Homo sapiens: one gene and its partner. The protein of the gene in region 1 purifies or fractionates together with the protein of each later gene. This does not show direct contact. Each region holds a gene or a part of one and is shown on either strand. Other genes may lie near its edges. The genes, in order: BTBD8 and NUMBL.

Region 1 (4,179 bases):
ATATGGAAACATCAGAATCTCCAGAGAGCCATGAAACTCCAGAAACTCCATTTGTGGGTCACTGGAATTTGAGTACTGGTGTTCTGCATCAGCGAGAGAGTCCTGAATCTGACACTGGCAGTGCTACCACCTCCTCCGATGACATAAAGCCCAGATCTGAAGACTATGATGCTGGAGGGTCTCAGGATGATGATGGGTCAAATGACAGAGGTATCTCTAAATGTGGCACTATGCTGTGCCATGATTTTCTTGGAAGAAGTAGCAGTGATACCAGTACTCCTGAAGAATTAAAAATTTATGATAGTAATTTAAGAATTGAAGTAAAAATGAAAAAGCAAAGTAATAATGATCTTTTCCAAGTTAATTCAACGAGTGATGATGAAATCCCTAGGAAAAGGCCAGAAATTTGGTCTCGATCTGCAATAGTTCACTCTAGGGAAAGAGAAAATATTCCACGAGGCAGTGTCCAGTTTGCTCAGGAAATAGATCAGGTATCTTCTTCAGCAGATGAAACAGAAGATGAAAGATCTGAAGCTGAAAACGTTGCAGAAAATTTCTCTATATCTAACCCAGCTCCTCAGCAGTTTCAGGGAATAATTAATTTAGCTTTTGAAGATGCAACTGAAAATGAATGTCGTGAATTTTCTGCAACTAAAAAGTTTAAAAGGTCAGTTTTACTTTCAGTCGATGAATGTGAAGAGCTGGGATCAGATGAAGGAGAAGTCCATACTCCCTTTCAGGCTTCTGTAGATTCTTTTTCACCTTCTGATGTTTTTGATGGCATTTCTCATGAACATCATGGAAGGACCTGCTATTCCAGATTCTCACGAGAAAGTGAAGATAATATTTTAGAATGTAAACAAAATAAAGGCAATAGTGTATGTAAAAATGAAAGCACTGTCTTGGATCTTAGTAGCATTGACTCTTCAAGAAAAAATAAACAGAGTGTTTCAGCCACAGAAAAAAAGAACACAATAGACGTCCTATCCAGTAGAAGCAGACAGCTTCTTCGAGAAGATAAAAAAGTAAACAATGGAAGCAATGTGGAAAATGACATTCAGCAACGCAGCAAATTCTTGGATAGTGATGTAAAATCTCAAGAAAGACCATGTCACTTGGATCTTCATCAAAGAGAACCCAATTCTGACATACCAAAGAACAGCTCTACAAAATCTCTAGACTCCTTTCGGAGTCAAGTTCTGCCTCAGGAAGGTCCAGTGAAAGAGAGCCATTCTACAACTACTGAAAAAGCTAATATTGCTTTATCTGCAGGTAATGTACAGAAATAGAAATGCTAAATGCATAAGAAAATAAGTTTATAAAATTTTAAAGTTGTATGAAGCCCTGAATGTTATATTTTAGTCAGATAGAATAATTACTTAAGCAACAGATTAAAATTTTAAATGAAAAATGTCTTAATATGAAAATTACTCATTCTTTATTGTTCACTTAAAATCCTAATGAAGAAGTAATATCTAGTAAAAATTTTGATTGTTATATAGAGCTAACCTACTAAGAGATTTTAAATGAAAGAATAAAAAGAAAAACTTAGTTTGCTGCTATTTAGTTATTTATGTATAATTTAACACAAGAATTCTTGACTATTAGAAATTTTATTATACATTGGATATGATTTATAGACTTGATAGTATATAAGAGGCCTGTGCAATAACTCTAGTAATATGTAACTAAAAGCACTGAACTATTTTAACAACTAGATTGATTATTACAATTTATATACATTTTACAGAGATTAAAATTTTCAGGATCTGTCTATTCTAAAGTTTTCAAATAAAAAGATAAATTTCCTAAGAGATTATATTTAGAAGCAATGATAATATATGAAAAAAGCCCAGGCTTATTTCATATTGTTTAGATGATTTTCTGTCTAATTGTTTTGTGTTTTTTGTCTTCCTTATTATAGTAATTCAGACTAATGACCCACATTTAAAATATGCAATAGTGGCTGACTGAGTAGCTATTGTGTATTATAACTAAGAAAAATACTGATCAGTAGTTTCCTGTTCAGCAAAATCGGAAGAATAAGGAGGTCTTTAAAGTTGTACTTTTTCGTTTGTTTGTCCTTGCTTGCATCTTCCTTTGCATGTGCAATATACAAATAAGCCTTTAGGTGAAATGTATTTATCCCTGCCTTTTGCAACGGACTTACCCTAAAAGTCATCATCAAAACACTATGTCTTTTTTTTTTCTCTTTTTCTATTGTAGTGAATTAGATATATGTGCACATTCTATGTTTATGTTTAAATGATTTATGTTTTCTGTATCACAAGTTTTCAAATTAAAGTATGGAGAATTATTGTTAGTTGCCTATGTTGATTTTGCTTCTAAACATTACCCTTGAATTTTAAACACATAAAAATGCCTCAAAAATCTTGTCAATTTTGTATAGAAGTTATTTTTCCCATTCTGTGTTTTTTTTTTTTTTTGACTATCACTGTTATATTGTGTTAATATTCTACAAAACTCTGAGGGTACCAACGTGCAATTTTTACATTGTGTAGTATTATGAATTATTTCAGGAGACATAGATGATTGTGACACACTGGCACAAACCCGCATGTATGACCATCGGCCTTCAAAAACCCTGTCTCCAATATATGAGATGGATGTAATAGAAGCATTTGAGCAGAAAGTGGAATCAGAAACACATGTTACAGATATGGATTTTGAAGATGACCAACATTTTGCAAAACAAGATTGGACACTACTAAAGCAACTGCTCTCTGAACAGGATTCAAACTTAGATGTTACAAATTCCGTTCCTGAAGACTTAAGTTTAGCACAGTATCTAATCAATCAGACACTACTTTTAGCACGAGATAGCTCAAAACCTCAGGGTATAACACATATTGACACTTTGAACAGATGGAGTGAACTAACATCTCCACTTGATTCCTCAGCGAGCATCACCATGGCTAGTTTTTCCTCTGAAGATTGTTCGCCTCAAGGCGAGTGGACAATTCTGGAACTGGAAACTCAGCATTAAGTGTTAACATTTTGGAAAAATTTATGCCACTCCTTTATTTTTTGATGCCTATATTATATCCAAATGATAATTGCATTAGCCGGATATAAACTTTCTTTAATATTGAGTCTTTCCAATTTAATGAGGTAAACATAGTTTATTTATTAATATATCACATATAGAAAAATGTTTTTCTAAAGTTTTTGAGCATGTTTTCTCTAATTATTAGAGAAATTAGAAGACTTATAAGGAAACCCTAGCTTCAGTTTTCCTTTCCTAGCTGATGATTTGTTCACTTAATCATTATTCAAGAATTTAAAATGTGAATGCAGAAGTAGATCAGTCCCTTTACTTTTTGCTCTGCATAGGGTAACATAGTAATTTAACAATAAAAACTTACCGTGCTTGTGTCCATTCATGTAGAGTTTTCTGTGACTAACATTCAAACTCACATTTAGGTGATTGAGGCTGATAGCTGAGTGCTGGGGAAAATCTTAGCTTTCCCAACAATTCAGGCCCAGGAAATTCTGAAGCAAGTACATCTCAAATTTCAACCACATCATTACTAAAACAAGAGAAATGGAATTTCCTGTCTCTCTCTTTTGGGGATATATCCACAGAAGGGAATCTGCCCTTGTTCAAAAGCATAGACTTCCTTTACAGGTAGTCACTCATTCTCCATTTTCCATTCCATGTTAGGGATATGTTGGAACTGCACCTGCAATAAGCCAGCACTAAATATAAACTTGAAAATGAGTATATAAGGCAATTGAGTTACGGAGTTTAAATTGTGTGTATGTGTATGTATGTGCACACACACGTTTGCTTTCTTGGTGTGTCATTAGACACCAGTTCCTTATTTCCTGGATCAGATTGTCTTTCAGTCTGTAATTTTGGTAGTAAGTCAAAGATAAAAACCTTTGCTACAAAATGCTACCTGGTAGCGAGTACTTGGGTACTTTTGATATTGCCAATGGGATTATGAGATTTCATAAATAAGCCTCTCTCAAAGCTTTGTGACTCATAATTCTCTGAAATATGTCTGAAGCAAGGAAATAGTTTAGAACTCCTTTTCTAAATTAGTAAAGTCTTCAAAAAATAATATGATCTATAACTGTATTGAATACCAAGTCATATTAATGCACAATTATTTGTTCTAATAACATAGTTATGTTACGGTTAGCTGCTAACCT
Region 2 (7,300 bases), on another chromosome or scaffold:
CAGCGCCCTACACACACCCTCGTTTCCCGAGGGGCACCATTATATTCTTCCTTTATTGGCTGTCCTTGTATAATACAAATCTTCAAGTTTAGATACAAAAAAAATCTGGAAATAAAAGATAGAAAAGTACCCGCCAGGCACCCCTTCCCCTTCTTCCCGGACCCCTCCCCAGCGGGCACCGACATGAGGTAACTGCGCATCTTCTCCTCCTCCTCCCTCCCCGCCTCCTGGGCCCCCAACTTGGCCCTAGCCCCCATGAGACCTTGGCCCAAGGAAGACATGGGCCCCAAAGTTGGAGGGTGATGGAGGTGAGTACAGCATTGGCAGTGAACGCAGCGTGTGGGCAGAGGGCAGCCCTTAGCTTGTGCTGTGCATGGGGGGAGGAGACGACCAGATTTGGGGTGGGCACTGGTGTGGGGCCCAGGAGAGCCCCTAAGCAAGTGTCCCCCCTCCATCCTGTCCAACACTGGAAGGTGGGGGTCAACAGAAACTGGGAAATGGAGTGTGAACCAAGGGCATTCAGTGGGATTGTGGCCAACCCCTGTGTCTGGGGTTGGGGAAGGGGGCATTGCCAGCCTAAGTCCGGCAGTGAAATGGTTCCCTTAGCCAGGCTGGGTCCGTCCCTGAATTCCATCCTGTTGCAACCTGGGCGTCACAATGTTGGTTCTGTAGTGGTTGTCGGGGTGGTTGAGGGAGGGGGGTGTTGAGAGGGTGTTGAGGGGCGCAGCCCCAGGGAGCAGGGTTAGGGGAGAGGTTGTGCCTCCACCCCCAGGCGTGGGGCACCTGGAGATGATGGAGTGGGTGGGGCGGCTCGGGCTACAGTTCAATCTCGAATGTCTTTTGCAGGTCGCCAGAAAAGGGGTTGGAGGGTTTCTCTACAGTGGCTTTGCCTTCTAATGCCGCCCACTGGGCCTCAAAGGGGTCCAACTCTGGAGCTGGGGCAGGCGCTGGCTCAGGGGGCCAGGGGGCCCCATTGGGGCGAGGGCGGGCCTGGCTCCCAGGGGCACTGGGTATGGCAGGGGGCGGGAAGGCCCCAGCTTTCCCAAGCAGAGTGGCAGGCTGAGGCTGGAGCTGGGCGGCTGAGCAGAAGGCGTTTGCCACCATCTGTGAGGGTGTGATGCCCACCACGGGCACCCGGGGCATCGGTGGGTAGCCCAAGCCCGGGTAGGCGGGCACAAAAGGGGGCTGCATGTGTGGGGGTGGCAGGAACACGGCCACTTGGGCAGGTGCAGCGTCAAAGGGCCCCACGGGGGCGGGGAAAGGCTGCAGGGCAGGAGGCATGGTGGGCACTGGGGCCACTGAGGCTGCTTGCTGCTGTTGCTGCTGCTGCTGCTGCTGCTGTTGCTGTTGCTGCTGCTGCTGCTGCTGGGCCTTGGCCACCTGTGACACCTCCTCCAGCCATCGCTCAGCCTCTGAAGGTGTCCGCTTGTGCCCAGGCTGGAAGGCAGCTGCAGGGGGCACGGAGGGCTCACCCCAGGCAGAAGTCCCTGGAGAGAGGAGAGGGACAGGTGAGGGAGGGGGCAACGGCTTCAGCAGAAGAACCCCAGGCTGGGAACTGGCATGGTGTGGGGATCAGAGCACGGACTCTGGAGCCAGACCGCCTGCCTCTGAATCCCAGCTCTGCACCTCCCGAGCTTGCTGACTTCAGGCGAGTGACTTCACCATTCTGGACCACGTAATGGTTCTGGAGTGCTAAGAACATACAATTCTGAGCTTCTAAGGCCCTATGATGAGAAAGTCTAAGTAGGACTGACATCCTCCTAGCCCCACTACCCTTCTGACTGGTCAGTGCCAAGCCTAGGATTCACTATTTTGTTTTGTTTGTTGTCTGTTCGTTTTGAGAGTCTCACTCTGTTGCCCAGGGATGCCCTATCTGGGCTCACTGCAACCTCTGCCTCCCAGGTTCAAGCAATTCTCGTGCCTCAGTCTCCTGAGTAGCTGGGATTACAGGCGCGCACCATTACGCCCGGCTGATTTTTTGTATTTTTAGTAGAGGCGAGGTTTCAACATGTTGCCCAGGCTGGACTCGAACTCCTACCTCAAGTAATCCCCCTGCCTCGGCTTCCCAAAGTACTAGGATTACAGGCATGAGCCACCACACCCAGCTGGTATTCACTATTTTGAATATCACCCTTGATTTTCTAATACCTTCAGAATGTATTGTTTTAGGAGTTAAGATTCTAAGATTGCATGGATCTTTCTCCACATGTATAATAGTATCCTAACATAGTAAGGTTTGACAGTTTAGGGTTGGGCTTTCTAAGATTCTCGAGTTCTACATTTACAGTGTTTGAGATTCTAAGGTGCACCTGTGGTTCTAGGATAAGCCCATGGCTCTAAGATGATACATGGTTCTCAAGGATTCCATGGTTCTGAAACGATCTCTGGGCTCTAAGGTGATCCCAAGATTCTAGCATGAGCACATGCCTCTGAGGTGACCCCGTGGCTCTACAATGATCCCGTATCTCTAAGATAATTCATGGTTCTAAAGTGATCACTTGATTCTCAGGTAATCCCACGGCTCTAAGATGATCCTTGGTTCTAGGATGATCCTCTGGTTCTAAGATGATCTGTGTTTCTAAGGTGATCCTATGGCTCTAAGATGATCCATAGTTCTAGGATGATCCCATGGTTCTAAGGGGATCCCGTGGCTCTAAAATGATCAAGGGCTCTGAGATGATCCATGGCTCTAAGGTGATCACATGATTCTCAGATAATTCCATGGCTCTAAGATGATCCATGGTTCTAGGATAATCCCCTGGCTCTAAGATGATCCCTGGGTCTAAGGTGATCACATGATTCTTAGGTAATCCCATGGCTCTAAGATGAACCACGGATCTAGGATGATCCCCTGGCTCTAAGATGATCCATGGCTCTAAGATGATCACACGATTCTCAGATAATCCCATGGTTCTAGGCTGATCCCCTGGCTCTAAGATGATCCCTGCTTTTAAGGTGATTGCATGATTCTCAGGTAATCCCGTGGCTCTAAGATGATCCATGGATCTAGGATGATCCCCTGGCTCTAAGATGATCCATGGTTCTAAAGTAATCGCATGATTCTCAGGTAATCCCATGGCTCTAAGATGATCCATGGTTGTAGGATGATCCCCTGGCTCTGAGGTGATCCATGGTTCTAAGCCTGTAGGATCCCAAGACCCCTGGAGTGTCTGGGTAGCCCTGGATAGAGGAGGGGATACAGGAGGGACATGCAGGGTGTCTGCCCAGCAGAAAGCCTGGCTTTACCTGTTGTGGCAGGTGGTGGCCCTGGTGCTGGCGCTCCAGCACTGGCAAAAGATGAACTGATCTGTGTGCACAGAGCGTTGATGCTGTCACTGTCGCCGGCACCAGGAGGCTCCATCTCAGGCACTGGGAAGCAGGGCAGGACAGAGGTCAGCAAACAGGCCCAGACCCTGCCGCAGCCCCGCCCTCTACCCCCCGCCCTCGGTGGCCCTCTCTTCTGACCTGGATCCTTTCCCACTGTAGTAACTAAGTGGCCATGACCGCCAAATAACTGTGCATATGTGTGTGTCACATCTGAGCGGCAGAACGACTGAGTTAGTGTGTGACATTTGACGGCTGACAGTAACAGGGACCCCAAACCAAGGACCTCAAGATTTGTGTGTGGCCACAAACCAGAAGAGTTGTCTAAAACACTTAGCAACATATATTAGTTTAAAAATATGCCCAACCACGTGCATGGCAAGGACATGGGCCCAGTCTGAATGGGCTGTGGCATGGCCGCTCACTGGCTGGGGATCATTTGTCCAGCTTTGGGCAGAGAAGTGGGGTCCTGTCCACCCCACCCAGGCTGATCTATGGCAAACATCATGAGAGCAGAGATACACCTGTGCCAGCAAGGCAGGAGACACTGAGCAGGCATGGCGGCCCCGTGAGGGCTTGTGATGAGCAAAGGTACCATCCAAATAAACAATTAAGGACTCCCATGTGTGGTGTGTGACACATGTCTGTGATGTTTTAGCCAATGGCTGTCTCCAAGGGACCATGTAGATGCTCCAGTGAACATCAGAACTGGCCGTAGGAGTCTGCAGGTGTGCTGCGGGGGCGCCCGGGTGGGACAGCCAATGTCGACAATGATTGTGCATGTTCGTCCAAACAGGAATGCAGCTTCTGAGAGTGTGACTGGGGTCCGGGTGTGTGGCGTCCTGATGCGTGACTCCCAGGTGTGAGTGCATCTGCCGTGTGATGTATGAGTGTGTTTGCAGGTGTGCATGGATCTGCACATGTGGCTTTGGAGTTTGCATAAATCTGGGTGTGTGGTCTGTGAAGGTGTGTAAATCTGAGTGTGTTTCTTTTTTAAAAATATTTATTTATTTATTTTTGACACAGGGTCTCGCTCTGTTGCCCAGGCTGGAGTGTAGTGGCACAATCTTAGTTCACTGCAACCTCCGCCTCCCAGGCTCAAGCAATCTTCCTGAGTAGCTGGGACTACAGGTGCATGCCACTGCACCTGGTTAACAATAAAGGTTAATTTTTAAAATTTTTTTGTGGAGATGAGATCTTGCTGTGGTGCCCAGGCTGGTCTCAAACTCCTGAGCTCAAGTGATCCTCCTGCCTCAGCCTCCCAAAGTGCTGGGATTACAGGTGTGAGCCACCACGTCTGGCCATGTGTGACTTCTGACTCTGTGATTTTGGAGTGTGTGTGACTTGAGAGTATACCTGACTGTGAGTTTGTGACTTCTGAGCATGTGTGACATGTGTGTGGGGGGGTGCAATGTCTATGTGAGTATGTGAAATTTCTGTGTGGCAAGTCACATCCAAATAAGCGTGCAGCTGGCCACAGGAGTGTGAGGCTTCCAAATAAAGCCTGGAGCTCCTGCCACCTCTCAGGAGCACGTGTGACAGCCTGGGGAGTGTGCCTGATGTCAGGCTGCGTTAAGGACAGCAAATGTGAGGGTGTGTGATGGCCCAGGAATGCTGCAGGCATGGAGGGAGCGTGCGTCACTCTCAACAAGGGTTGGCATCTGCTCACCGGTTACCTTTTGGAGCAGCCCAGCCTCCTGGATACAGCTCAACACCCTCCCACATCAATCCCCGAGGACATAACGGGTAGGCGATGCAGATTTGGCATCCAGGAGCAAGAGAGTGGGCCAGACCACATGGGTTCACTGGCTGCTGGTGGGGAAGACAGCCCTTCTGCCTGCCTCCCTCAGGCAAAAACTCAGTAGCGTGCCACCTCTATCTTCCTTCCCTATGGCAGAGATTGCTCTTAATTTTTTTTTTTTTGAGACAGGTTCTCACTCTGTTGCCCAGGCTGGAGTGAAGTGGCGCAATCTTAGCTCACTGCAGCTGGGCTGAAGCAATTCTCCTTCCTCAGCCTCCTGAGTAGCTGAGACTACAGGCATGCGCCACCACACCAGGCTAGTTTTTGTATTTTTTTGTAGAGACAGGGTTTAGCCAAGTGATCTGCCTCAAGGGATCCTTGAGCCCCTCTTGGGCTCAAGTGATCTGCCTGCCTTGGCCTCCCAAAGTGCTGAGACCACAGGCATGAGCCACTGCACTTGGCTAGACATCACTTTTAGATCATGATGTACACCACCTGTCTCCTTTCCCTGGCCCATGGCAGACATTAGTAATCAAACACAATGCTTTTTTCCCCCACGGAGCTCTTTGCTCACCTTACCCGTCACCTGTCCAGACCTCATGGCTCCCCTGGCCAAGTGCTAGAAGAAACAGATCCTTGTAACTCCATCTTCCCTCCAAGTAAAACAGGACCTTTATATCTCCTCTCTCTTACCACCAGCCATGGCAGACAATGCCAATCAATTATGATGTGCTGCTCCTTTTCGTGATGGGTACTGCCTCTGCTCAACTCTGTGCCTACAACAAATGTTCCTGATCCATCACTATGCCCCTGACCCCTGGGATCTCTGAGCTCACTGGTGCCCTGCATGTCATGTTTCTACTGACCAAATTCTGGGAGTCTCCCCTTTGGGTAAAAACATAACACTCTTGCTACTCTTTCTTCTCCCTTGCCCATGACACACACTGCATGGAGATCATGACTGCTAACCGATCATGATGTGTGCCATCTTTCTCGTTTCCCTTAACCACAGCAGACATTGCTAATTGATCATGACTTGTGATGCCTTTTTTGCCATCCCTTGATGCTCCCTGCCCTAGGCAGACATTTCTAATCCATCACAATCCTCCTTTCCTCAGAGCCTGAGGAATACCTGTATCCTTCACCTAGCCAGATCTCATAGGTGAATGCTTGGAGGGAGGGAGCATTAACCTGTAGTGCTTCAGTCTACTCCTGAGCAAAAACAGGCCAATGGTGTTGCTTCTCTTCTTTCCCTGGCCCATGGCAAACTTCCTTATCCATGCCCGACTTCTTTGTCCATAGCCGACTTTGCTAACTAATCATGATGTGTGTCATCTTTCTCCTTTTCCTTAACCACACCAGACATTGCTAACTGATCATAACTTGTGATGCCTTTCTACTATCCCTTACTCAGAGCAGACACGGCTTATCAATCCTGATTTGTGCTATCTCTTTCCTCTCCCTTGCCCACTGCTAATCGATCATGACATGTTCCCACTCTCTCTCCTTTGCCCATGGCAGACAGTGCAAATCAATCACAGTGTGAACCATCTCGCCTCCATCCCTTGCCCACATCAGATAGTGCCAATTGATTCCAACGCCGTTTCCCACTGGGCCCAGGGCTCACCTGTGCCCTTCACCTGGAAGTCAGTGCGGCGCTGCAGCGTGGATGGCAGCTCATTCAGCCGTAGGCTCAGCTGCCGTTTGAAAGGCGAGTTCTTCTGGCTGAGTGCTGGGAACCCACGGAAGGAGCCCTGGCGAACCAGCTGCTCCAGGGGTGCATGGCGCCGGGGGATGGCGGCCGCAGTGGTGCCTGCAGCCACAGGGGTGCCTGCCTCACCCTTCTCACCAGGGGATGTGGTGGCTGGTGTCGGGGACACGTGCCCAGGCTGGGCAGGGCCAGGAGCCACAGTGGGGGCAGCTGCTGCCTCTGCTGGAGACATGGGGGAGATGGATGGTTAGATATCTCACCATGGCATGCAAGGCCTCTCCCACCTGGTTCTCTTGATCATTCTCCAAGGCTGCCTTCCTTGCCCAGTGAGTCCTGCCCTTAAGACAAGCTAGTCAAAGCCCTGAGATATCCCTCACCCCCACCCAAGTCATGATCCCCTTCCCCAGGAGGCTCTTGGAAAACCGTCCCCCAGGCTCACCCTCTGTGTCTCTCCAGCTTCCTGCCCCTTTCTGTCTTGCCCTGCTGCTCTCACCATTCTTCCCTCTAAGACCCTCTATCTCCCT

The links.
Region 2: the proteins of BTBD8 (region 1) and NUMBL purify together in Homo sapiens (affinity purification with mass spectrometry; 2 studies listed by BioGRID and IntAct, with this or other methods). This does not show direct contact.

Annotation. Positions count from the first base shown.
Region 1 is NC_000001.11:92,181,324-92,185,502, forward strand, and holds the end of BTBD8 (BTB/POZ domain-containing protein 8), read left to right. Parts: coding exon 1-1,272; intron 1,273-2,540; coding exon 2,541-3,007; 3' UTR 3,008-3,400; downstream 3,401-4,179. UniProt on the Homo sapiens protein: Involved in clathrin-mediated endocytosis at the synapse. Plays a role in neuronal development and in synaptic vesicle recycling in mature neurons, a process required for normal synaptic transmission.
Region 2 is NC_000019.10:40,666,652-40,673,951, forward strand, and holds part of NUMBL (numb-like protein), read right to left. Parts: intron 6,999-7,300; coding exon 6,693-6,998; intron 3,370-6,692; coding exon 3,247-3,369; intron 1,488-3,246; coding exon 817-1,487; 3' UTR 1-816. UniProt on the Homo sapiens protein: Plays a role in the process of neurogenesis. Required throughout embryonic neurogenesis to maintain neural progenitor cells, also called radial glial cells (RGCs), by allowing their daughter cells to choose progenitor over neuronal cell fate.